Linked DNA regions of Homo sapiens. The protein of the gene in region 4 purifies or fractionates together with the protein of the main gene of each other region. This does not show direct contact. Each region holds a gene or a part of one and is shown on either strand. Other genes may lie near its edges. The genes, in order: SNX8, ECI2, AP2A2, SNX9, MLYCD, SYNJ2 and FCHO2.

The links.
Region 1: the proteins of SNX9 (region 4) and SNX8 purify together in Homo sapiens (pull-down; one study listed by IntAct). This does not show direct contact.
Region 2: the proteins of SNX9 (region 4) and ECI2 purify together in Homo sapiens (co-immunoprecipitation; one large-scale study listed by IntAct). This does not show direct contact.
Region 3: the proteins of SNX9 (region 4) and AP2A2 purify together in Homo sapiens (co-immunoprecipitation; 3 studies listed by BioGRID and IntAct, with this or other methods). This does not show direct contact.
Region 5: the proteins of SNX9 (region 4) and MLYCD purify together in Homo sapiens (co-immunoprecipitation; 2 studies listed by BioGRID and IntAct, with this or other methods). This does not show direct contact.
Region 6: the proteins of SNX9 (region 4) and SYNJ2 purify together in Homo sapiens (co-immunoprecipitation; one large-scale study listed by IntAct). This does not show direct contact.
Region 7: the proteins of SNX9 (region 4) and FCHO2 purify together in Homo sapiens (co-immunoprecipitation; one large-scale study listed by IntAct). This does not show direct contact.

The regions. Positions count from the first base shown.
Region 1 is NC_000007.14:2,269,442-2,272,941, forward strand, and holds part of SNX8 (sorting nexin-8), read right to left. Parts: intron 2,531-3,500; coding exon 2,409-2,530; intron 199-2,408; coding exon 118-198; intron 1-117. UniProt on the Homo sapiens protein: May be involved in several stages of intracellular trafficking. May play a role in intracellular protein transport from early endosomes to the trans-Golgi network.
Region 2 is NC_000006.12:4,125,576-4,129,075, forward strand, and holds part of ECI2 (enoyl-CoA delta isomerase 2), read right to left. Parts: intron 2,257-3,500; coding exon 2,187-2,256; intron 663-2,186; coding exon 560-662; intron 545-559; exon of another isoform or gene 1-544. UniProt on the Homo sapiens protein: Able to isomerize both 3-cis and 3-trans double bonds into the 2-trans form in a range of enoyl-CoA species. Has a preference for 3-trans substrates.
Region 3 is NC_000011.10:1,009,305-1,012,740, forward strand, and holds the end of AP2A2 (AP-2 complex subunit alpha-2), read left to right. Parts: intron 1-23; coding exon 24-93; intron 94-378; coding exon 379-513; intron 514-1,243; coding exon 1,244-1,321; 3' UTR 1,322-2,936; downstream 2,937-3,436. UniProt on the Homo sapiens protein: Component of the adaptor protein complex 2 (AP-2). Adaptor protein complexes function in protein transport via transport vesicles in different membrane traffic pathways.
Region 4 is NC_000006.12:157,938,246-157,941,745, reverse strand, and holds part of SNX9 (sorting nexin-9), read right to left. Parts: intron 3,114-3,500; coding exon 2,999-3,113; intron 864-2,998; coding exon 772-863; intron 1-771. UniProt on the Homo sapiens protein: Involved in endocytosis and intracellular vesicle trafficking, both during interphase and at the end of mitosis. Required for efficient progress through mitosis and cytokinesis. Required for normal formation of the cleavage furrow at the end of mitosis.
Region 5 is NC_000016.10:83,902,115-83,905,614, reverse strand, and holds part of MLYCD (malonyl-CoA decarboxylase, mitochondrial), read right to left. Parts: intron 1-3,500. UniProt on the Homo sapiens protein: Catalyzes the conversion of malonyl-CoA to acetyl-CoA.
Region 6 is NC_000006.12:158,061,863-158,065,362, reverse strand, and holds part of SYNJ2 (synaptojanin-2), read right to left. Parts: intron 3,372-3,500; coding exon 3,199-3,371; exon of another isoform or gene 3,142-3,198; intron 1,573-3,141; coding exon 1,491-1,572; intron 763-1,490; coding exon 613-762; intron 538-612; coding exon 372-537; intron 1-371. UniProt on the Homo sapiens protein: Inositol 5-phosphatase which may be involved in distinct membrane trafficking and signal transduction pathways. May mediate the inhibitory effect of Rac1 on endocytosis.
Region 7 is NC_000005.10:72,987,041-72,990,540, reverse strand, and holds part of FCHO2 (F-BAR domain only protein 2), read right to left. Parts: intron 1,115-3,500; coding exon 1,040-1,114; intron 64-1,039; coding exon 1-63. UniProt on the Homo sapiens protein: Functions in an early step of clathrin-mediated endocytosis. Has both a membrane binding/bending activity and the ability to recruit proteins essential to the formation of functional clathrin-coated pits.

The DNA.
Region 1 (3,500 bases), on a different chromosome or scaffold from region 4:
CTTCCCTCCACTATTGTCCCATGACCCTGCCAAATCCCCCTCTGCGAGAAACACCCAAGAATGATCAATAAAAAAATAAATTAAAAAAAAAAAAAAAGAAAAAAAAAAGAAAAATACCTTGGCCCTGGTAGCCAGCTTACAGTTCAGGAATTCGTCCCCGACGCACTGTGCTGACTCCTTTAACTTGTTCTGCACATCCTGCAAAAGGAAAACACACAGCTTCACCCTCTTCTACTAGCAGCAAGAAAGCTGCTGTGGGGTATGGGTCACTGTGGAGCGGGAGGTCGTCTTTCCTCAGGAGAAACACATTTCCATATGTTGGCTTTGACATTAGTATTCTGCAATCTCTTGACTCTCCCTTAGATGTTTTTCTCACCAAACAGGACAGCCTGGCTTCACAGCAGGAGCACCACAAACCTGCAGCCTCTCTCCAGAGGCACAGCCACTCCATCCGCAGACGGGGGGCAGCTCTCCAGAGAAACAGCCACTCCATCCACAGACCAGGGGCGGCTCTGCAGAGAAACGGCCCCTCCATCCACAGACCCGGGGCGGCGTCAGCCCCAGAGATACCTGAGACCCTGGTAGCTTCCAAAAACGCAATAGAACAGGGCAAAAGTGTCTTCCTTCCTGGGAATGCATCCATGGCGCCAGGGACACCAGAGCCCAGGGAGCTGCTGGGCAGAGGGACAGGCCCAGCCCCTGGCACCGGAGCCCTCTCATCTGAAAGAGGCCTCCTGGGCAAAGCCGTGCCTTAAAGTCAGGAGCCACCCAGGAGATACAAGGGGAAACCCTAATATGCAGCTGTTTGCGTGTCCAGGAATTCTCAGGTTTCAGAGATGCCTTAAAGATCATCTGACTCAACTCTCATTTTACAAAAAAAAAAAAAAAAAAAAAAAAAAAGACCTGAGGCCCAGCATGGTGCGTGCCTGTAGTCCCAGCTACTCAGAGCCTGAGGCGGGAGGATCGCTGGAGCCCAGGGGTTCAGGGCCAGCCTGGGTAACATAGTGAGACCCCATCTCTAAAAACAGAAAGCAAGCAAGAAAACTGAGGCCGGGAAGTGACAGAGAATGATACCTGTGGGAAGGCCACAGGGAACGTCCTGCCCCCAGAACAGGGATATTGCCCACCTGTGACCCACTGCACCCCTGCCCACCGCCCCTCCCAGGTCCTGCCACATTCCTCTGCTGGCAATGCAGATCGCCTCCAAAGGAAGGTTTCCAACCCCAGGGCTCAAAAGATCCCACTGCCTGCTCCAGACATCCCCGGGGGCATCCCAGGGACATCTCAGGCACAGGGGGAAGGCCCCTCTGCCTCCGAGAGGAACGAAGACAAAAGGAACCAAGGCTTGTGTGAAGTCAGCCTGGGAGAGGGGGTGTCTTCCTGCAGCAGGGACAAGGACAGAGGCCGTCAGGTCCCCATTCAAGACGGGGTTTCCCTGAAATAGAGGAGAGCCTGGAAACCTCTATTCCAGTGGAGCCCCCGCCCCTCCCCGCACAGGGAGAGGGTCCTGCAGGCACAGGTGGAGGAGAAGCACAGGACCCGCCTTCCCTGGAGGGGCTGGCAGCTGCTTCCTCCTCCAGGAAACAGGAGCTGGGCTGCAGGGTTGTTTTTTGTTTTTTTGAGACAGGGTCTCACTCTGTCGCCCAGGCTGGAGTGCAGTGGCACAATCACAGCTCACTGCAAGCTCCACCTCCTGGGTTCAAGCGATTCTCATGCCTCAGCCTCCCAAGTGACTGGGATTACAGGTGTGCACCACCATGCCTGGCCTCAGTTTTGTTTTGGTAGAGACGAAGTCTCGCTATGTTGTCCAGGCTGGTCTCAAACGCCTGGGCTTAAGGGACCATCCAGCCTCGGCCTCTCCGAGCGCTGGGATTAGAGGCGTGGGCCACTGTACCTGCGAACTGTAGCTTCTTGACACACAATAAGGCTGTGCCGCAGCAGCTGGGAGGAGGGAAGCCCCACTCAGACCTCTGACGGAGTGCATGTACAACAAGTTAATTCCCGGATGCAGGTGTGGGCTGTGGCTCTGACAAGGAGGCTCAGCCTGTGTTCCAGTGGTCCTTAGTCAGACAGGGCCTTGTTTTAAGTCAACACTTCTTCCCATCTGGAGTCTCTGGCACCTCCCTAAACCCTCCAAACCATCCAGCCTAAATCCTCAAAGTGACCACAGAGATCCATGATCTCCACGCGGATTTACAAAATCCTGCAAAGTCAACACCAGGGACACCTCTGAAAATCACATTCAGACTGTTATCTGGAAAGGAAAGAAGTCTTGTCCATGTCATTCCTGCTGGGCGTCCAAACAAGGGACCAGGAGGATAAGAAACCACACCTGAGAGAGGAAAAGGCGGGTCCGGAGGCTCGGGGACTCCCCGGGGCCGGGACATGGGCAGGGCAGACACACTCACCGAGCCGCTGAAGGACAGGAAGAGCTTGAGGACCACATCCTCGGAGAACAGGGGGTGTCGCGCCACCAGGTTGACGAAGCGCTTCAGGGCTCTCCTCCTGGCCTCGATGAACTCCCTGTCAGCTGGAGGAGCACACGGGGTCACTGGACAGAGTCCAGGGCGCCGGCCCCCATCTTCTGCTCTGGGCGAGTTCTCAAAACTCTCCCTAGAGGTGGCAGAGGGCCCAGCGGCTAGCAGAGGGCACTGGCTGGGCCCCCAGTGCTGCTCAGACAATGGGTCTGAAAAGGCCGCCCAGAGCAATAACCTCACCCCCAGAGGCCCCCTCCAGCCACACACACTTGGGTCCAGGAGCTGCCAAGGAAAACCACAGATCTGCTTGTTTCCATCGGGAGTCCTGGGAACCACGTGAGTGGTCACTTTAATCACCTCCGTTAAAGACATCTTCCATAATCCCCTCCTGGCACTTCTCACTGCAAACAAATGGGTTTTGCTACGCTCTAACACTAACGCAACCCAGGTCTTCTTTTCTTTTTTTTTTTTTTGAGACAGAGTTTCGCTCCTGTTGCCCAGGCTGGAGTGCAGTGGCGCAATCTCGGCTCACTGCTACCTCCGCCTTCCAGGTTCAAGCGATTCTCCTGTCTCAGCCTCTGGAATTAGCTGGGATTACAGGGGCCCGCCAACATGCCTGGCTAATTTTTGTATTTTTAGTAGAGATGGGGTTTCACCATGTTGGTCACGCTGGTCTCCAACTCCTGACCTCAGGTGATCCACCTGCCTCGGCCTCCCAAAGTGCTGATATTACAGGCGTAAGCCACCGCGCCCGGCCGAGTTTTTCTATTCACTGTGCTTATAACTTACTCTGCAAAGGATGCAATTACTCATTGCTTTCATTCGGGTTAAATATTTTCACTCCAAGGGGAAAAAAAGTAAAAGCATATACTGATGCATTCAGGACATTTCAATCTGAACACAAACAAAAATGGTATTTAAATACTTTTTTTGAGACGGAGTTTCACTCTTGTCGCCCAGGCTGGAGTGCAGTGGTGTCATCTCGGCTCACTGCAACCTCTAACTCCCAGGTTCAAGCGATTC
Region 2 (3,500 bases), about 150 Mb from region 4:
AGACCAACCAGTGAGACCTATGGGTCAACCCTGGTTTGAATCTTGTATTCTGGACAGTGAGTTCAGGGCTGTAAACCAGCCGCAGTCTTAGAGATTAGGTTGGGTGACTGAGCACATGCTGCAATATCACAACAAGTGGGAATTACAGATTTGGCAGGAATAAAGAGAAAAGCCTTCATGACCTCCTCCTGTGTTTACAAGACTCCTCCGAGTCTCCTACCTTCAGCGTTCATGGAAATCTCCCATTCCTCTGGCTGGATGAGAATTTGCTAAATTCCTCTGCCTCAGTGCAAGATAATTTTGTTTACAACTATAGCTCACTTTTATGTTTTCCAGTCAAATCTCATGAGACCAGCAGGATGAACAGGTAACAGAGGTCAAAGAGAAAGAATGAATGCCCACCTATGGATGGAGGCAGTTTAGAGAAATATGCTTGTCCAAAGTCACAATTAACTGCACTGACACAGAGAAGCAGATATTGCACTTTTGCTCAACTAAATACCACTTTGATGACTAAGAACGGGCCCTCTGGGATCAGACAAAGGTCAGTAACTCTTACCTCAGTAAAACGGCATTATTTTTAGCTTTCTCCTCTACTCCACCAGGGGGAATATCAGTGAAGTTAGTCAGATCATTCCCACTACTGTAATAGTCACCATTTCCTATAAGTAAGAAAATCAACAGATCCCTCATTCAATCATCCTATAATTCTTGAGTATCTACTGCATGCCAAACTCTATGGTTAGGCAAGGGAAATACATTGGAGAACGAGCAATGGTTCCTGCCCTAACTTACAAACTAGTGAGTACGCTGGACACTGATCTATAAAAACACACCGATAAATGTAGCTAATGCTACTGTTGAAATAGAGGAGTGGTGCGTCATGAAATGAGGGTATGTACCAGGAGGGTTGGTCTAATCAGGGAGTTCAGGAAAGAACTTTCCTAAGGAAGCGACAACTGAATTGAGATCTGAAGGAGAGGCCAGGTGGGCTAGAAAAAGAGGGCTGGGAAGAACAGTTTACACAAAGGAACAGCCTGTGCAAAGGCTCTTTGGAGAGGTTATCCCCACTGTAGATGAAGTAAGAGCCACTGTAGCTGACTCAGGGAAAGCCAGGGGGAAGTCGGTGCAGGATGAGGACTGGCAGAATAGACCTGACAGTGCTTTGTAGATCCCATGAGGAAGTTTTTTCTTTATTCTAAGAGCCACTGAAAGTATGTTTCTGAGTGTGTGTGTTTAATTAAAGTACAATTTATATACAATAAAACAACCAGTTTTTAAATGTTCATTTAGATGAGTTTTAATAATTTTAAATACCCACAAGATCACCATCCAAAACAAGATACAGAACATCTCCATCACCCCAAAAGTTTCCCGTAGGCTCCTTCCTAGCTATCCCACCCCACCTGCTCCAAGGCAATCACTTTCTGACTTCAATTTCCACAGAGAAGAACTTTTGTCTACTGTAGAACTTTCTACAAATGGACTCATACAGTATGTACACTCCTGTCTTTATTTTGCTGAACTGTGTTTTAAAGATGCATCCACATTCTTGTGTATATCATTTATTCCATTTTATAGCTGAGTATTCCATTGTACAAATAGTCAACAATTTGTTTATTCATCCATGTGTTTTTGAACATTTGTTTTCTGGTTTTGGCCGTTATAAATCAGGTTACCATGTCTGCTCCTGTAAAAGTCTTTTGGTGGACATATGTGTCTTAATTGATGTTGGGTAATTGCGAAGGAGTGGGTATCTGTGTTTTTTTAAACATTTTTTGTATATTTATAAATCAGAGTATGACAGTACTGGAAAAGATCTTAGAGCCTTTTTTTTTTTTTTTTTTTTTTTTTTTTGAGACAGAGTCTCACTCTGTTACCCAAGCTGGAGTGCAGTGGCGCGACCTCGGGTCACTGCAAACTTTGCCTTCCAGGTTCAAGTGATTCTCCTGCCTCAGCCTCCTGAGTAGCTGGGATTACAGGTGTGTGCCACCATGCCCGGCTAATTTTTATATTTTTAGCAGAGATGGGGTTTCACCATGTTAATCAGGCTCATCTCAAACTCCTGACCTCGGGAGCCACCTGCCTCGGCCTCCAGGTCTTAGAGCTTTTTAACTCAATTTCCTATCTATTAAGAGGCCCCTCAAAATAGAAATTTAATTAGGATGCCTGAGAAAATGTCTTACCTGTTAAAACAGTGATGATTGAGTCATCCTTGCTGGCAGCTTTAAGTGCACGCATAATTTCATGATACATCTGTGTAATGGGAAGACAAGGAAAAGAAAAGAACTCTGAACACAGGAATCATCAATCAATGGACTCAACAAATGTCAGGCTGCAAGCTTGCTCTCAGCAAAGTGCCTAACATTTATTTTGGTTGTATTTTATAACCAAAAAGGTGGACCAACATAACTGAAGGAATTTTTATTCCTTTCACAGTTACCTGGTGCATATTATGTACCTGGTGCTATGGCAGGAGCTGCAGGCTATAAACCACTTTTTTTCCAAAAGGGACCAAGAAAGAAATAGTCCTTGAGCTTTTGGAATTAACAGAGGACTTAACATGTTCAATTTGGAATTAACATGTTCAAATGAGGAGGGGGTTGGAAAGTACAAAGTAGCAGGGAACTCAGAGGAGGTGCTGAGGCTTATCTAGTGTGGGCAGAGTGGGAGGTGGTCAGAGAAAACTTTCTACAAAGCAACGTCTCTGTTGTGACCTCAAGGAAGCCCCTGGCAGTCTGGGAAGTGTTAGTGACTGCCAAAAGGCTGGAATTTTCAAGACACTGTAATGGTATTCAAGGAAGGTGGCTCAAAATTTTAAATCAGCAACATTTCTGAAAATCTTGGACAAGCAGCTATATAGCTTTTAATGCATTTAAAACAGGTGCAATTTCAACCTTAGATGAGATTTCAGTGTGGGAAAGAAATGAGGAAGAGGGCTGATACTTATAGATACAAATATACTGGAAAAGACACATGGACTTTACATAAAACAGCCTGCCCTCCGTATCCACGGGTTCCACATCCATGGACAACCAATCACAGATCAAAAATACCTGGAAAAGAATTCTGTATCTATACTGAACATGTACAGGCTTTTTCTCTTATCATTAGTCCCTAAACAATACAGTATAACAACAATTTAATATAGCATTTACATTGTATTCAGTATTATAATAACTCTAGAGATGATTTAAAGTATATGGGAGTGTATATAGAGGTTATATGCAAATATTATGCCTTTTTATGGGGGACTTCAGGTTCCGCGGATTTTGTTGTCCACACGGAGGTCCTGGAACCAATCCCCATCGGATACCAAGGGATGACTGTACATGAATAAGCGTTTAAGCATTTCTCCTGAGGGAAGTGATAAGGAACTCATTCTATCATTATTATAGTTATGATAACACCACACAGCAGGGCGACTGGTGAGACCAGGATTAGGAGATGGATTATCAGGGTTCCTTCCTTCCAACTGGTGAGACCAGGATTAAGAGATG
Region 3 (3,436 bases), on a different chromosome or scaffold from region 4:
CTCGCCTTTGCTGTTTCTCACAGTCCACAGCAGGAAGTGCAGAACATCTTCAAAGCAAAGCACCCAATGGACACAGAAGTCACCAAAGCCAAGGTAACACGTCTGGAGGGACGGCCCCGGGGGACACGCAGCCCGTGACCCCGCGCCAGGGTCTGGAGGGACGGCCCCGGGGAACACGCAGCCCATGACCCCGCGCCAGGGTCTGGAGGGACGGCCCCGGGGGACACGCAGCCCGCGACCCAGCGCCAGGGTCTGGAGGGGCGGCCCCGGGGGACACGCAGCCCACGACCCAGCGCCAGGGTCTGGAGGGGCGGCCCCGGGGGACACGCTGCCCGCGACCCCGCGCCAGGGTCCTCATTCTCCTGTTTCTTTGGACAGATCATTGGATTTGGTTCTGCACTTCTTGAAGAAGTTGATCCTAATCCTGCGAATTTCGTGGGAGCTGGAATCATCCACACGAAAACCACCCAGATTGGATGCCTGCTGCGCTTGGAGCCGAACCTGCAAGCCCAGGTCAGGCCCTCAGGAAATGGTGGAACACACTTGAGTTGCTTTTTATTCTGGCACAATGTACGTGGTGAGATGTGTAGCTCTTTAGTGCAGTTCAGTCAGTTTTGACAGATGTTGTTTAACCACCACCCTGTCAATACATGGTTGCCTCCCAGCCTCCCCGCAGCTGGCCACCGTGGAGCATCATCCCTAGTGCAGTTCAGTCAGTTGTGACAGATGTTGTGTGCCTGTTTAACCACCACCCTGTCAATACATGGTTGCATCCCAGCCTCCCCACAGCTGGCCACCGTGGAGCATCGTCCCACCATGGAGCAGCCTGGCCCTGGGCGGTGGCTCTCCCAGCTGTTCCTCTCTGTCACCGCGTTGTTCCTTCTCACCACGTCCCGTTCTGGCGACGGACACCTGTCTCCGTTTCACTTGGGTGGCACCCAGGAGTGCTGCTGTCGCCCAGGGCCTGTGTGTGGTTAGTGCTGCAAGAACATCCCACAGCTTCTCCAGGTGGCCGTGCCACTTTGCACTCCCGCCAGCTACGTACGAGACGCCAGGCGCTCCCATGCCAGCCCTCAGTTTTCATGCTGACAGTGTGTGTGGTGCTCAGGCCTCTGCCGAGTTGTGGGTGCCTCCAGAGAGTGGTCCCTGGGCATGGCCCACAGGGTTCTGCATGGCGGATCCTGGACCCGAGGGCTGTGTGAGCCTCGGCGTGCCCGTTGACCTGCTGTGCTCTCTGTTTCAGATGTACCGGCTCACGCTGCGCACAAGTAAGGAAGCCGTTTCTCAGAGATTATGTGAATTGCTCTCAGCGCAGTTTTAGTCCTGAGGATGGAAGACCAGGCTCGTGTGTCTTGTGTTGTCTTCGTCTGTGCCGTTTGTCTTCGTGGCCATCCTGCAGATGAGCACCGTGTCCAGTGCCACAGCACAAGGCGCCTCCCCGCCCCGCCGCCCCACACCTCTCCCCTTTGGGCTGGACGGGAACACACGTGTGTGGCTCAGGAGGAAAAGCTCAGCCTGGACTGTGGCAGCCACGGCAGAAGGTGGATCTTGGGATCAATTTTTATAAAAATCGAGACAGTTCTGTGGTTAAATCTACAAATTAAAGGGAAATTAGAAGTTGGCGTGAACGTGGCGTTTGTGGGAGTGTCACTGAGATGGCCCGTGCTGCCGCCCACCCCGCCTCGGAGCCTCTGGGAGCAGCAGTGCCACTGTGCATGGCGTGGGCTGAGCCTTGGTGTGTGGCCGTCCTGGTGGCTGCACACCTGGCGTCGTCCTGGGCCCTTGGGAGGAGCACAGCTGACCCTGGTTTTGCTGCAGTCCCAGCTGGACTGTTTTCCCAGGCAGGATTTTAATCTAGAATTTAGAAACATTTGTATTTGTAATGACTTCTGGCAAAAGCACGTGTCCTGGCCGGATGTAACTGTTCTCCTTTCCCAGCTCCTGTTTGTGAAGGGCGTCTGTTATGCTCCTGCAGTCGCCGAGGCCTTGGATGTGCAGCCAGGGGAGGAGCGTCCTGCCGGCCCCGCAGGGCCCCCAGGACTCCAGGGTAAAGTGTGGGCCGGTGGCGCAAGACTCAGAGGTGTGCTCGTCTCTTTCCTGTCAGAGTGGGCGTCCCCAGGCCACGGTGCAGGCCTGAGTCCTTCCACCGGCCCCGTCCAGTCGTCCCTGGAGGGGCTGTGGAGGAGGGACGCCTCTGTGTGGTCAGGAAGTGAAGGGGCCATTGGCCGCATGCCATGTGCCACCTGCGGCTTGTGTCTCACCTGTCATCTGGACTCAGCACCCAGGCTGCACGTCTGACACCTGAGAGGCGAGAGAGTGGGGCCGGCCTAGGAGCCAAGGCTGGGGCCTTGCGCTCTGTCCCCAGGATGGTGGCCTTGTTTGTCCTAAACACACCCAGCACAGGTTCTGGCTTCCTGACATGCTGTGGAGGCAGGGAGGGTGGGTGGCCACATGTGCTTGAGGGTTTTCACCCTGGCCCTCAGTTGCCTGCTGTGCGGGTCCCTGGGGCAGCTGCAGGGGCTCATGGACCCATCAGGGTCTCCACAGCTCCCCTGCAGTGTGTGCACCCCACAATGTCTGCGGCTCTTCTTCCGGCGTGTCGGGCTTTGATCACAGCATAGCCACGTCAGTGGCGTGCGCCTCTCGCACAGGCCATTCTGGGTCTGGTGGTGCCAGGTGCCGTGACACGCCGTGCTGGGCTTGTGCTGCAGCTGGGTGGTGTGGCCCTCATTCTCATGTTCCAGCTGCTGGGCAGTGCTCTGCCTGTGTGCTGCGCCTGCAGGCTGCGTGTGCTGCCGTGGATCTCCTGCATCCCTTGACCCCTCCCGCCATCAGAGGAAAGGCTGCTCCCCGAGGCACCGCTTCCCTGTGCGGCGCTGCAGAGGGGCCCTCAGTGTGGCACTCCTCGTCAAAGAAAAATAAAGGCTAGAACTGCACCCCGGATCACGCGCTTTCTTTGGGGGGAAAGCATCCCATGTAACCCTCATAGCTCCCCGGGGGTCGCGTGAGGCACAGACCCCAAGGTCCCCGACCTGTCCTTCAGCAGTGGGCTCACGGGCAGCGGGCATCAGAAAGTGACCTGCCCTTTGCTCCGCCGGTTTGATTCTGGGTGTGTGGTGGAGCTTTTTGGGACTCAGGTCATGCGGGAACCCCTCCAGCCTGGCCGCAGGGCTCCCCACTGTACAGTGTGTTGAGGTGCAGCCCAGGGCTCCTTCCTGGGGAACGGGAGGCCCCGTGGGGATCCTCCAGTTGATCCTACCACAGATGGTGCAGAAGGGGCTCTCGGGCAGATGGGGGTGGCCCCCGGAGGACGGTGGGCTTCGCCAGAGACGGAACAGTCCTAATGGAGGGAGGGCAGGGGCCCAAAGCCAGAGGCAGCTTCTCTTACCAGCCCAGACCCTGCTGGGGGCAGCCCTGCCCAACTGCAGATCCCAGG
Region 4 (3,500 bases):
AGGCGTTTTCAGCAGTGTCCAGCTCGCAGATGCCACCAGTATGGCTGAGCAGAGGGCTTGCTCACCACTCCCCATGAACATGGCTTAGATCCCATGGCCAGAGGGGAGCTGGGTAGGCAGCAAGGCCGCCAGCGGAGGCTGGATTCTACATTACAGACCTTACCTGCAGGTGTCTGAGGGAGACATGCTACTAGATTTTTGTTTTCTATAGACTCTGGTAAACAACAAAATTACTAAGCAGAGGTAAGAAAAATTTAAGTTTTCGTTATTGTTTTGTGAATAAAACCATCCCACATCTCGCTTTTTTGGTTTTCTCTCTGCGATTTCCATGGCGCACTGTGAAAACCTCATTCACAAAAAGCAAAGGCTGCCTTTGGTTTCCTGTGTGGTGCCAGGCTCCTGTTCCAGCTGCCAACGGAGTCCCAGGGACGGCTGGGTGACCTCATCTCATTCAGCACCGTTCCTGGTGCACAGAGGCACAGAGAGGCTGTGACGGGGGGAAGGAGCTGCACAATAAGGAACTTCTTGGGGCCTTGCAACTAGCATCCAAGACCCCTGCTTCAGAAGAAAATCTTTTTTAACCCAGTGTTATCCAAAAAGCAAAGGGCAGATGGAATTAGGAGATTAAAAAAATCCTGTCCAAAATTTAGGCTCCTTTGGTTTATTACTTAGGATTAAAGAATACAAACAGATTAACTTTACATGGTCAAAGTGGTTTACCAGGAACCCTCTCCTCAAGCACATGCGAAAGGCACGTGGACGCCCACTCACCGTTTCGTAAAATTGCACTTGCTGCTCCAGGTACAGGCGGATGACACTGTTGTAATCATAGATCCGGTTACTGTGAAAGTGATTCATCTCAGCTACAACCCAAATCAGAACATCAATCAGTTTTCCCTCAAGTTTTCAAATGACAACACCTGGTTTCTCTGCTCAGTTACAATTAATCATCAACCTGACCTAATCTGGTTGGCTGCTGTTGTCAGTTCTTGGTAAATCACTTTACTAAGAGGTTAGAAAAACAAGTTGAGCTGGGCGCAGTGGCTCACACCTGTAATCCCAGCACTCTGGGAGGTGAGGTGGGTGGATCACCTGAGGTCAGGAGTTCAAGACCAGCCTGGCCAGCATGGCAAAACCCCATCTCTACTAAGAATACAAAAATTAGCCGGGCATGGCAACAGGTGCCTGTAATCCCAGCTACTTGGGAGGCCGAGGCAGGAGAATTGCTTGAACTCAGGAGATGGAGGTTGCAGTGAGCCGGGATTGCACCACTGTACTCCAGCCTGGGTGACAGAGCGAGACTGTCTCAAACAAAACAAACAAAACAAAACAAGCTAATGACAAACATTACTTTCCAGTAAATGAATGACTTTCACTGTCTTGCATATTCAAAACTATAAAATCCAATACAGATAAATCACCCAAATGCAGCCTATTACTCTAACAGAATCGATCAAATAGAAAATACTTGGTCATATTTGTTACAGATGACTGCAGTTCAAAGCCTCTGGTGTGTCTGCACTGGACCTAGCAGGCAGCTGGGGTCCCTGCCCCGCTCCCTCCTGCACAGCAATTGCTTCAGCAGGTTTCTGGTGAAAGGCTGGGCAGCGTGTGGGACAGCGGGAGACCCTTCTTCAGTACGGGAAGCCTTGCTGCCCCTGAGCACCAGCGACGCTGTCAGAACTCAACCTCTCACAGGGCAGGAGGACTGGATGCTGAGGGACAACTTTCTTCATGTTTGCTGAATACATGGATTCCTTCTTTCTCTGTCCCCCCTGCCCCTGCCCCCAACTCTAGAGGAGTCTTCGTCATCAGAGGACCTCATTGCCTCCCTCGGATGCCTCCTATGCCGCCTTCTCCCAAACCCTCCAGGCTGAGAAAGCCAGCGGCTGCACAGATTCCCATGACATGCAAACTGTTCTACATTTTACATTCAGTTACTTGAAGTTATACAAAGCTTTGTATTTCTCAATTTGGATAACCTCAAACACAAGTTCAAAACCAAACTCCCCATTTCAAACCCTTCAAAACCCGAAACTTCAATCAGGGTTCCTCGTTTTTGCCGTAGTGGCCTGGCTCTGGACACCTCCCTCATCCTTCTCTTTCTCCCATGAATGCCCCAGTCTTGAAAGCTGTTCCTTGGAAAAGCCTGCAAATGTGCTTCATTCTCTTCTCCCCAGTACCACATCTTTAGGCCCTCAAAGCTCAGACTACAACAGTGAGATGGTCTTCTGGCTGGGCTCTTGGACAGTGTCTGCATCTTCCAATCTCCCCTCCATAACCAGCAAATCCTTCTCCCTTGAGGATTGATTTTTTTTTACTCCCTTTTAATGGCTTCTTAATGCCTGCATCAAGTCTAGAGCTTTCAAGTTCCTTCACAATCAAAATTTATTTCCCAATAACCTCTAAGTATGTTTTACTCTTTCATGCCCATGACACAATCTAGCACCACAATTTTGTGGCTTTTGTTCCTAACAGAACACGCTCTCCATTCTCTGCCCATCCAAGTGCCATCCACCCATCCGCCAACAGGAAAAATCCACTTGCTGCCCTCATCTGCTCAAAAACACTCAAACCTATAGAAATTCATCTTTTTTTTTTCTTGACACAAAAAAATTGTGCCTAAAATGACACACCCAAACCCCTTCACATTCCATGATCCCAAGGCACGCAGGTTACAGACTGCTAAAAGCTGGGCTCTGGCATTTAATAGAGCATTATGATACCACAGATTACAAAAGGAATCTTAAATGTCTCTCAGAAATAATAAAATGTACAGTTTTAATCAAGCTGTCATCTATAGCCAGATAAGGTGGACAGGTGAAAAATTAAATAAATATTACAGATTTTCATCAGCACCGGGATCCTGCAAACGAGGGGCTTAAAAGGTCTCACTTACTTAACTGCTGCTCACATCTGGATTTCTCTCTATCAAGGGAAACTTTGCTGGGGAAAAAAAAACTTCCACCAGCACCTCATAAGGACCCTTTCATCTTACCTTGCAACGCGTAAGACATGATGCTGACTCTCTTCACCATGTTCTGTTTGTCTTGTAGGGTGATTTTACTTGTTGCAACTAGTTTGTCACTTTCTTTCACTTTTTCTATTGCTCCCTGTGAAATATAAAATGCAACAGTATGAATAAAGCTGAAATGATTAGTCATTAGTTTAAAATATAACAATGCTAATATATTCTATAACTGATTTGCTACTGAACAGGAAATACCTCCACAAAATAAGAAGAGAGGAAAGCATCTAAATTTAACTTCCTTCAAGTCCCTTGGAAGCAAAAAGGTTGCTATTCTTGACAAATGTCACTAAGCTAAAATGAACAGTTTTATGCTACAACAAAAGAGAAAAGCAAACAGCACACCATCTCTGTAATATTCAGAAGCCGCTGCCATTTGAGGAGTAGCACGTAATGGAAATCAGGCATTAGCAGGTTTTGGAAGTCATGTGGCTAGGTACAGGGCAGCATGTGCACACAGGCACTCTCTCTC
Region 5 (3,500 bases), on a different chromosome or scaffold from region 4:
GAAGGCGGTGTGATGGCTGGCATTGGAGCAGCCATCCTGGGCCACGACGTGGCTTTGGAGATGAAGGTTTTTCTCGGCAGAGCAACAAGATTCAAGTCTGAATCCACCAAGAGCACCAAAGAGCAGAATCAGCTCTGGGCTGCCCACCTCTAGACTTTCACATGACAGACAAACTTCTGTCATATTCAAATCACTGTTATTTTGGGTCTTTGTTACTCATAAACTACATAGTAACAGATCCACTGAACATTATTATTAAATAACAGTAAACATCTCAGGACATCTGATACAAGAATGACCTTCTGAATCTCTCTACAAGGGTCATAAAGAACACAATGGGCAACACCTATAAGAATGGCTTTACAACAGCTAGAATTTTTTTTTTTTTTTGAGAGATGGAGTCTTCCTCTGTCACCCAGGCTGGAGTGCAGTGGTGCAACCCTGGCTCACTGCAACCTCTGCTCCCTAGGTTCAAGCGATTCTCCTGTCTCAGCTTCCAAATTTTATAAAACAATTTTACATTTTAATCCCTGTTAAAGGGTGAAAGGACTCAGAACTTTGACGCCTGAGAAAGAGTTGCAGGTTTTGGGGTGATGGCTCAGAGAAGTTTTCGGAAGGAGATGAGGTCTCCTTTTACATGTTTAAGCACTAGGGCACGAAAGAGGCCACAAATTTGTTCTGTGTGACCCCATGGGGGCCGGGGAAGGAAATCTAGGACTGACTGGTGGAAGTCATGGGCAGTCAGATGTGGACTCAATTTAGTGTAAAGAGGAACTTTTGAATAGCTGGAGCTGTCCACAGAGGTCATCCTGGGAGACGGTGACCCTCAGCACTGGAAGCCATCAAGCACAGGTGGACAGAACTCAACGGAGCTGTTTGAAAACGGATTTAAGCATTAGATAGACAGCTGGACCAGAAGATCTTTGCAATTCCTTTTAACTCTACATTCCATGACTCAATCTCCTTTACTTGGTTGTAAACGCCATAAAAGCAGGATCCACTTCTGATTCATTTTTATAGTTCGCAAAGCATTCACTAATAGATTGATATCAAATGAAAAAGATGGAAAAATGGAATGAATCGTGATTAGGAAGTAGCAAGAGGGCAGGATGAAAGAGATCATTTGCTAGGTGACACAGAATGGCCCTTTGTAAAACTGTACTTTCTGCATTTGACTATAGCAATTCTTAATCTTCCTGGGATCCTCTCACACTCTTACGTGCTAAAAACCATAGGCCCTGCCCCCAAAACACTGCAAATACATTAGTAAAATTGTGCATACGTTTTCCTGGGGTACATGGACTCCTCTGATACTTATCTATGGACCATCCCAGGGGCCAGGAGGGCTTCTGTACCCCAGTTTAGGAACGGATGAGCTGAGCTCTGCGTAAGAGGTACTGGTATCTGTCTTACATTCGTGATATGAAAAAAGCTGGAAATACCTAGTTTTACTATCAATTTAATATTAATTATGAAAGAAATGGTTTGGCTGATGAAAGCTCCTCCCCTACAGATCTCTTCATTCTATTTTGGGCTCCTGACAGCTACAAAATGTGACACTGGTACACGAGAACTGGGAATCCAGGCTAAAGGTTAGAAGTCTCCGTTGCTCAGTTCTAACACCGGCAGCAGCTGTTCAGGCTGGGATGAGCCACAGCACGCGGCAACGTTGCCAGGATACAAACACCACCAGGGAAAGAGGCCTCTGCAACTGTACGTGCGTTAATTCAGGCACCATTTATCACCAATACAAGACTGAGAAACACAACTGCGGGGAATATCCTGGTGATGCTAAGGGCAGCGACAGTTCTCAGTGGATTCTGCTGGAGTGTTTCTTATTTTTTTTTTCAGAGGCAGGTCTTGCTCTGTTGCCTAGGCTGCACTTGAACTTCCGGGCTCAGCTGAACCTCCCAAGTAGCAGGGACTACAGGTGCGTGCCACTGCACCCGGCTCTGTGTATTGTGTATTGTTAATTCCATTGACTTGTATGACACCGTTTAGACCAGCCCACTTTTCCTTTTAAAAGAGAAACTGGTTCCCTCTCTTTTGAAGCTCTATCAAGATCTGCTTATTTTGGTATGTGAAGAAAAGTTACCTTCCCTTGTCCAGAAGCCCTGCTCTGGGGAAGGGAGGATAAAGTCATGGATGAGGGTAGCACTGCAGAGGCTGAGAAATTTGGGGAAAATTCCCACTCACGTAAGCTGACACTCCGCAGGTGTACACTTGATGCTATGGGTATACTGTCCTATCTAAAAATAAGTATTATTTAGCATAGGTAAGCACAGAATTTACTAGAACCAACAAGGAGTACTCAATTAACTAAAAGGCAGAGGGTACGCAGGTGTCTAGCATGGCCGGGTGGCTGTGGCAGTGGGAACCAGGTCCCTTCTCTAGTTTCTGTGCCTCTGTTAAGGTTGGAGCACCTCTCATTCCACCCTAACAGCAAGGTCCAAACTGCCCATGAGGAACCCTTTCCATGAATTAAAGGCCAACCTTCCTCGAGTGCCCACAAATCACTGAACCTCGCTCAGACCTTCCCCTCTACTGGGGATTCGACTCGGTTTCACTGGGATTTCACCTCTAAGAAACTGAAGTCATCAACCAACTGGGCCTCTGGAGAAAAACAAAAAGCCTATAAACCACCATCCCCCAGACACATCACATCCTCATACCCACACCTACCATGCAACCACAGGGACACACATACCTCCAAACTCCTCTACATTCAGGAGGCCACAAATCCAGGCAGTAACAAGCCTCCAAACTCACTCAGATCAGAGGAAAAGAACATTTTAAAAAGTAAGAACACAGCCAGGCACAGTGGTTCACACCTGTAATTCCAGCACTTTGGAAGGCCAAGGCGGGCGGATCATCTGAGGTCAGGAGTTCCAGACCAGCCTGGCCAACATAGCAAAACCCCATCTCTCCTAAAAATACAAAAATTAGCCAGATGTGTTGGCAAGCACCTGTATTCCCAGCTACTCAGGAGGCTGAGGTGGGAGAATGGCTTGAACCTGGGAGGCGAAGGTTGCAATGAGCAGAGATTGTGCTGCTGCACTCCAGCCTGGGCAACAGAGCAAGACTCTGTCTCAAAAAAAAAAAAAAAAAAATCAGATTAAAAAAATAGATCAGATCATACCACATTAAGTGATTCTGGTGAGAGGTTACAATATCAGATCCCAGTTGATAGTTTATAGGTACAGAACAATCTAATTCTATTCTAAGACTGATTTAAGCGACAGGGATTTTAAAAAAATTACATCTGGGCTCACACCTATCTATAATCCCAGCACTTGGGATTGGAGGATTGCTTGCTTGAGGCCAGGAGTTCAAGACCAGCCTGGGAAACGTAACAAGAAAAAACATAAACATGAACAAAAAAATAAACACAAACAAAAAACCGTAAACAACAAAACAAAAAACCATATATATATATATATATATATATATATATATATACGCACGCACACACACACACACACATATACACATACATATAT
Region 6 (3,500 bases), 120 kb from region 4:
TCCCAAAGCCAACATCACCTGCTAAGGGCCCAAGAGCCCAGGCAGCTGAGGAAGTTTCTGGAGTAGGTTAGCATTCAAAGGCACCGATGCGTTTAGGAGAGTGCACGGCCTCTCCCTGAGCCCGCCTGGTGTCTCTCGCTTCTCAGGATGGAAACACAGTCCAAGCCGAGACAGAGGAAGCGTGAGCTCCCAGGCCCAGCAGGAAAGCGCAGGCTCCCGGGAGAGGCAGTGACAGCTGCAAGGTGCATGGTCCACTGCTCAGATCCCAGGCACCTCTGCCACCCGCTCTCTGGATAGCACAGAGGCGGTGGGAAAGTGGGGCTGGGGAGCACCCTACCTCCCTGCCTCGCCCTGTCTGCGGCAGGCCCTACCCAGGAGCGCCGTGCTGTCCAGCAGCATGCCCCCTTTGTCTGCCACCTCCTCGCCGTAGACGTCCCCAACCAGCAGCAGCTTGATGGCCTCCTGCTTCACCCCGTCGAAGAAGTTGGACTGGATGGTTCGAGACATGGACCGGGCTCCATCCTTCAGCTTCCCCACCTGCCGAGAGCCCAGACCGCAGGCCGTGAGGGGGGTCCCTGGGGCCCCCACCCTGCCCCCTCGGCGGGGCCCTACCTTGGCCTTCCCTTCCAGGGCTCTGCTGCCTGTGAACACCTTGCTCAGGCTGTGGCCATTCAGAGACCACATGGCTTTGAAGGACTCCACAAAGCGGTCAACGATGGGTTTTGAACTCAGCCCCAGGGTCTTGAGCTGCAGATGCAGGACCTGGGGAGGAATAAGGGATGGCTGTCACTGGCTTCTCCCACAGAGGCCCTGCAGCCACTGTCCCAGGAGGTTCCTTATTCGGCAGCCTGTGGATTACGCTGTGCCTGGAAGACTCTGTGCCCCTCCAGAGGATGAGGAGTTCCCACAGCAGAGAGTGACTTCCCACATCTCACCCCAACTTTATCTATAGGGTCCACCCAAGCCCTCCTCTCACCCCCTGACACTTGAACGCCCCTGCACCCCGCCCCGCCCCACCCAATGCCAGAGGCTGAAGAGCAAACAGTGGTGGACAGCAGGGGGTGCTGACCCTACCCCCGACCCCCCAGCCAGGAGAGGTCAACCAGGCAGCTGGGGCCATGCAGACAGAGGTCTCCCTCCCCAGCTTCAAATCCAGCCTCATCCGGCCAGCCTCACACTGCCTTTGGCCAATGGTGCATCCACGATAATCATTACACACAACCGCTGTTCCCGAGGAGCCTTTGGGCCACCATGTCTGGGATGCATTTCACAAGAGGGTGTGAGAAAGTGTGCCTACGACAGAGAAAGCAGCCTCCTGGGGAACCCCTCTCTGGATGTCCCAGTGTCTCCCTGTCCACCTTCCCCATAGTCAGAAGGTTGTCTTGGTGATGCCACCCTCATCTTGCCGCTAAAGGTGCTCAGCCCAGCCTGTCCAGCTGAAGTCACAGGACCTGGCACAGATGGCCGAAAAGGCTGTGGCAGGGACGCACCTCGAGCGCGATGAAGCTCTGCACAGTGTTGGTTCGGTCCAGGCAGTCAAGACAGTTCATCCGCAAAGTGCCTTTCTGAAAACTTAGGACAAGAAGAAATGTAAACGGTTATATGTTGTTTTCAAAGAAGCAGTGGCCATAGCACAGAGGCCCATGTCTGACTTTTGACTCCCAAGGAAACATGGTTTTTTTTTTTTTTTTTTTTTTTTTTTTGAGACAGAGTCTCACCTCTGTCACCCAAGCTGGAGTGCAATGGCATGATCTCGGCTCACTGCAACCTCCGCCTCCCAGGTTCAAGCGATTCTCCTGTCTCAGCCTTCCAAGTAGCTGGGACTACAGGTGCGTGCCATCACACCCGGCTAATTTTTGTATTTTTAGTACAGACGGTGTTTCACCACATTGGCCAGGCTAGTCTCGAACTCCTGACCTTGTGATCCGCCCACCTCAGCCTTCCAAAGTGCTGGGATTACAGGTGTGAGGAAACATGTTCTAAGAGGGAACCCCTCACCTCCTCATCAATAGCCCCCCAGAAACCCCAGTGTCCATCCCAGTGGATCCCCAGCACTTCTGGAAAGGCAGGCAGACCCCAGGACACACACTCAGTAGCCTGCACAGCTGGGTCGTTTTACGTTTAGCTGGTCCTTGTTATTTATAGCAATTATGTTCTATAAAGTTGTAGGAACACTGAATTGGACATGAACACAGAACCATCGCTCCTAGGGGAAATATAGGGTTAGGTTCCTGCAAACCTCTGGTCACATTTTTATCAACTGATCAATATACAACCTTGTTTTATGTATGTTTCCATATAAAGACACCTTATTGAATATATATATTTGCTTAATTAACACTGAACCATGGCCGACAGCACTGTAGCTCATATAGGGACAAAGCTTATCTTAACGTGCATTTTCTCCATAAAGCACATCACCACCTTCTTGTGCTCAGAAGTACTAGACAGCTCTTCGGCACACTGCTTGGGGCCATTCTAAACCATGAGATCCCCGAACAAAGGGGGGCCCCTAACAAAGACCCCACAAATGTGAAAAACATGGTACTAAATCTTAAAAAGGAAACTTGTTTAAATACGAGGCCAGAGTATTTAAATACTCTGTCCAGCAAAAATGCTTTGCATACTGATTTTGGGGTTACAAATCAGTTTTAAGGAATAGGTAAATAAGCCAATATGGAATCTGCAAATAATGAGGACCCCCTGCATGTGACCTGAGGGAACTGGACTTCGTTTTTCTCCTCTGCTCTGAACAGGGAAGTCCATACCCTGGTCTCCTCTAGCAATCTAAGTCTATGCCAGCCATCCCACCGCGACTGTGGCCCTCACTCTCACAGGCCTGCGTCACAGCGTGGAGCTCCATGTTTTAATGCAGTCCCCTTTATTAGTTCATTTCTTTTGCCAGAAAACCATGACTCAACATCTCCTTGAGAAATTCAAAAGCCTGTCTCCTACTGTGGGAAGGGAGATGAGAAGCTGGAACCCAAGATTCCCGGCGTCGCCAAGCTTATGACCCAGGAAACCACAAGGGTAACTGAGTGGGGAGGGAAGGAAGCTGCCCCTCATAGGGCACATGTCCTAGACTGCACGGCCCCTCTGCCGCCTCACCCAGCAGAAGGCACAGCACGCAGCGAGCCTCACCGTGGACTGACGCTTCCCCCCAGCAGAAGACGCGGCACAGTGCGCAGCGAGCCTCACCGTGGACTGACGTTCTCCCCCTTTGTGAACACATCGAAGTCTTCCCAGTGCAGCTTTAACTGTGGCCTCAAGAGGGTCTCCAATTTCTCTAGCTTCCCACCTTTGGCAAACTGATGGAAGTCAAAATTGATCATAGGCGTGTCGCCCGCGTGGCAAGAAGCCCAGAGCAGCTTCTGAAAAGAGGAGGGGAGGGCGGTGAGGGGAGCAGAGGGAAGGGAGGACGAGGAGGGCAAGCTCCTTGCAGAGCTTGACCCGTGCGGCTAACCAAGGTGACTCGCCGCAGGACGTGCTTTAGCTGGAAG
Region 7 (3,500 bases), on a different chromosome or scaffold from region 4:
AAGTGACAATTTGCTAATTTCTCTGTAGATGTTTTGAATACATCCCATACTGGTGCAAATGTTCTAAGAAAATAAAAAATATGGGAATAACTTATTAAAAGTAAAAAAGAAAATTAAGGTTCTAACAAGGAACCAGTGGAAATAATAGTGGTATATATGGCAACTTTATTTAGGCAAAAGATGAAATTAAAATAATGAATAAAATGATTGACAGACTGACCTTGAATTTTTTTTGTCATTGGTTATTTAAAATATTTTTGGACCTCAGGAATATAGAAATGGGTTAATTACATTATCACAAGTCTTAACCCTCTTAATTATATTAATTTCTGAATTGATTTAGTATTTATACTTGTATCAGAAGCCTTTCTATCACTGTCTATTGTTAAAAATTAACTATTATCAAACTTCAATTTAAAACAAGTATTCCATTTAAAATACTTCATCAAAAATAAAGTTTCTGTGAATTTAAACATGCAAAAGCCCAATTTTTAGATAATTATTCTTTCCATAATTGTTATGGCAATGAGCACATCTCATTTTAAATGTATTCTTTTCATTATTTTCATTTTTCAAGGAACACATTTTTAATACAAATTTTTAAAAGGAAGATTTAATGACAGTCTATAAAATCACAGGAGACATTTTTAATGCATCTTAATCATTTCAATAAAGTTTATCTTAAGTGAGTTTTTAAAGATCACTGTTAAACTACAACAGAATTTAAATAGGAACTTACAGACAACTAGAATAAATACATTGCATGTGCATAAGATAACATTTATAATCTCAAACACTATTGAATGACTAGTTTTTAAAAAGGGAAAAAATAAATTTCATTTAGTTTTGACTGCATTGACTGATTCAGCAAGTTCAATTATATTTTCTATCAAGTGAAGAATATATTAATATTTACAGATACTTTTAAATAAGCATATATTTTACTATGCTTTTGAACTGTTATGTCCTCAAAAGGAACCTAGAATCCTTAAGAACTTTGCCTAAATAAACACTGAAAAAGAGGAAGAAATTAACTCACCCAAGTTGTGAATAATTGCTTGCAGATTTTGCTAGTTTTGTCATTGACCTGGAGTATGCCTCCTCTATGGTAGCTCTGTTAAATCAAATATCCACATCATAATACTTCTTATTTAGTGACCAAAAACAGCAAAGTTATCAAAATACAATTAAAAGTGCAAAACAAAAAGATACCTCAAAAATTACATGTTAAAAATAAGTACATATATGTAGTCATGAATTTCCGGCCTATCTTCAAATGTCCTTTCTGGTATAGAACTAAAATAATTTATATCACACACACAAATTTTTTTTTAAAACAGTCTTGCTCTGTCACCCAGGCTGGAGTACAGTGGTATGATCATAGCTCACTGCAGCTTTGACCTCCTAGGCTTAAGCAATCCTCCCACCTCAGCCTCCTGAGTAGCTCACACTACAAGCATGCCCCACAACACCCAGCTAAGTTTTGTATTTTTTTGTAGAGATGGGGCCTTGCTATGTTGCCCAGGCTAATCTGGAATTCCAGGGCTCAAGCAATCCTCCCACCTAGGCCTCCCAAAGTGCTGAGATCATAGGCATGAGCCACCACGCTCAGCCACAGAAAAAATTTTAATGGAATCACAACTCTTTTTATCTTTAGTACCAATGCTTATCTGAACAGGAAATACATGAGTGCTACTTCTTGTATTCTCTCTGTCTCTGTAAGCTGGTTCACTGTGATAAGTGTGTCATTTGTATTTAATAATTCTTTGTTGTACTTAGTTTTATTATTCTTCAACACTGTGATGCACATTTAATAGAACAAGAGATTAATGACAGTCATTTGCACAAAACTAAATATATCATCAAGTCTGAAATCCTGAACTTCATTCATGGCTTAATTTATTTTGTGATCAGATCTAAAATATTAGCAAATATTTCACACTAGAAAACTGTGTTTTATATAACTACTGTTTAGCATATGAGATTTTATTCCGTAAAAAACATCCACAGCCATTAAATATAGAATTCTAAAAGACACAAATTATCCTACAGACATGTAACCTATAAATACAGAATACACATTTTGTATGGCCTTCTTTTTTTGAGACGGAATATGGCTCTGTCACCCAGGCTGGAGTACAGTGGTGCAATCTTGGCTCACTGCAACCTCCGCCTCCCGGATTCAAGCGATTCTCCTGCCTCAGCCTCCCGAGTAGCTGGGACTACAGGCACCCGCCACCACACCCAGCTAATTTTTGTATTTTTAGTAGAGACAGGATTTCACCATATTGGTCAGGCTGGTCTCAAACTCCTGACCTTGTGATCCGCCCCACTCAGCCTCCCAAAGTGCTGGGATTACAGGCATGAGCCACTGCGCCCGGCCTGTTTGGCCTTCTTAACACTACAAAACTTATAGTTTTACCTTTTGCCTGGCTCTTCTCAATGTGTGCTACCCTTAATAGGGGAACATTCTACAACCACCATCATCCCTCCATTTACTTTGATTGGTCCAACCAACTTTCTGCTTCTAATGTCTAAATCCAGATCTTCACACTACTCTTGCACTGACCCACCTGTTCAATATCTAACTGCCCCAAACATAATTAAGATATGTGAACCACCTCAAACTCAGAATATCTAAACTAATCTCCAAACTCTTTCCCAACCAAATTTGCACAAAAACCAGCTCTCTAACAAAAAGGAAATATTAACAGTAACTGCCTCTCGCTGATAGTACTGTGACTCTTTCCTGCTCCTTTAAGTTCTTCTGTCATTTTAAAATACTATTACTACAAGAGTAATACTTTGTTCACCCAAAAAAGTTAATATTAGTATATCAATGTGTGAGTTTAACAGCAAGGTAAAGAAGTTCAATTTCCAGTACAGATTAAACATCCCTAATCAGCCAGGCACGGTGGCTCACGCCTGTAATCCCAGTACTTTGGGAGGCCGAGGCTGGCAGATCACCTGAGGTCAGGAGTTCAAGACCAGCCTGGCTAACATGGTGAAACCCCGTCTGTACTAAAAATACAAAAATTAGCTGAGCATGGTGGTGGGTGCCTGTAATCCCAGCTACTTGGAAGGCTGAGGCAGGAGAATCGCTTGAATCCGGGAGGCGGAGGCTGCAGTGAGCCAAGATCATGCCACCGCACTCCAGCCTGGGCAACAAGAGCGAAACTCTGTCTCAAATAAATAAATAAACAAACAAACATCCCTAATCAAAATATCAGAAATGCTCCAAAATCTATATATTTTTTGAGGACCAACATGATGCCAAAAGCAGAAAATTCCACACCTGACCTCATGACAGGTCATGGTCAAAATTCAGTCAAAACTTTGTTTCATGTAGAAAAATAGTTAAAATAGGCCGGGCACGGTGGCTCACGCCGGTAATCCCAGCACTTTGGGAGGCTGAGGCAGGTGGATCACGAGGTCAGGAGATCGAGACCATCCTGGCTAACACGGTGAAACCCCATCTCTACTAAAAATACAAAAAAATT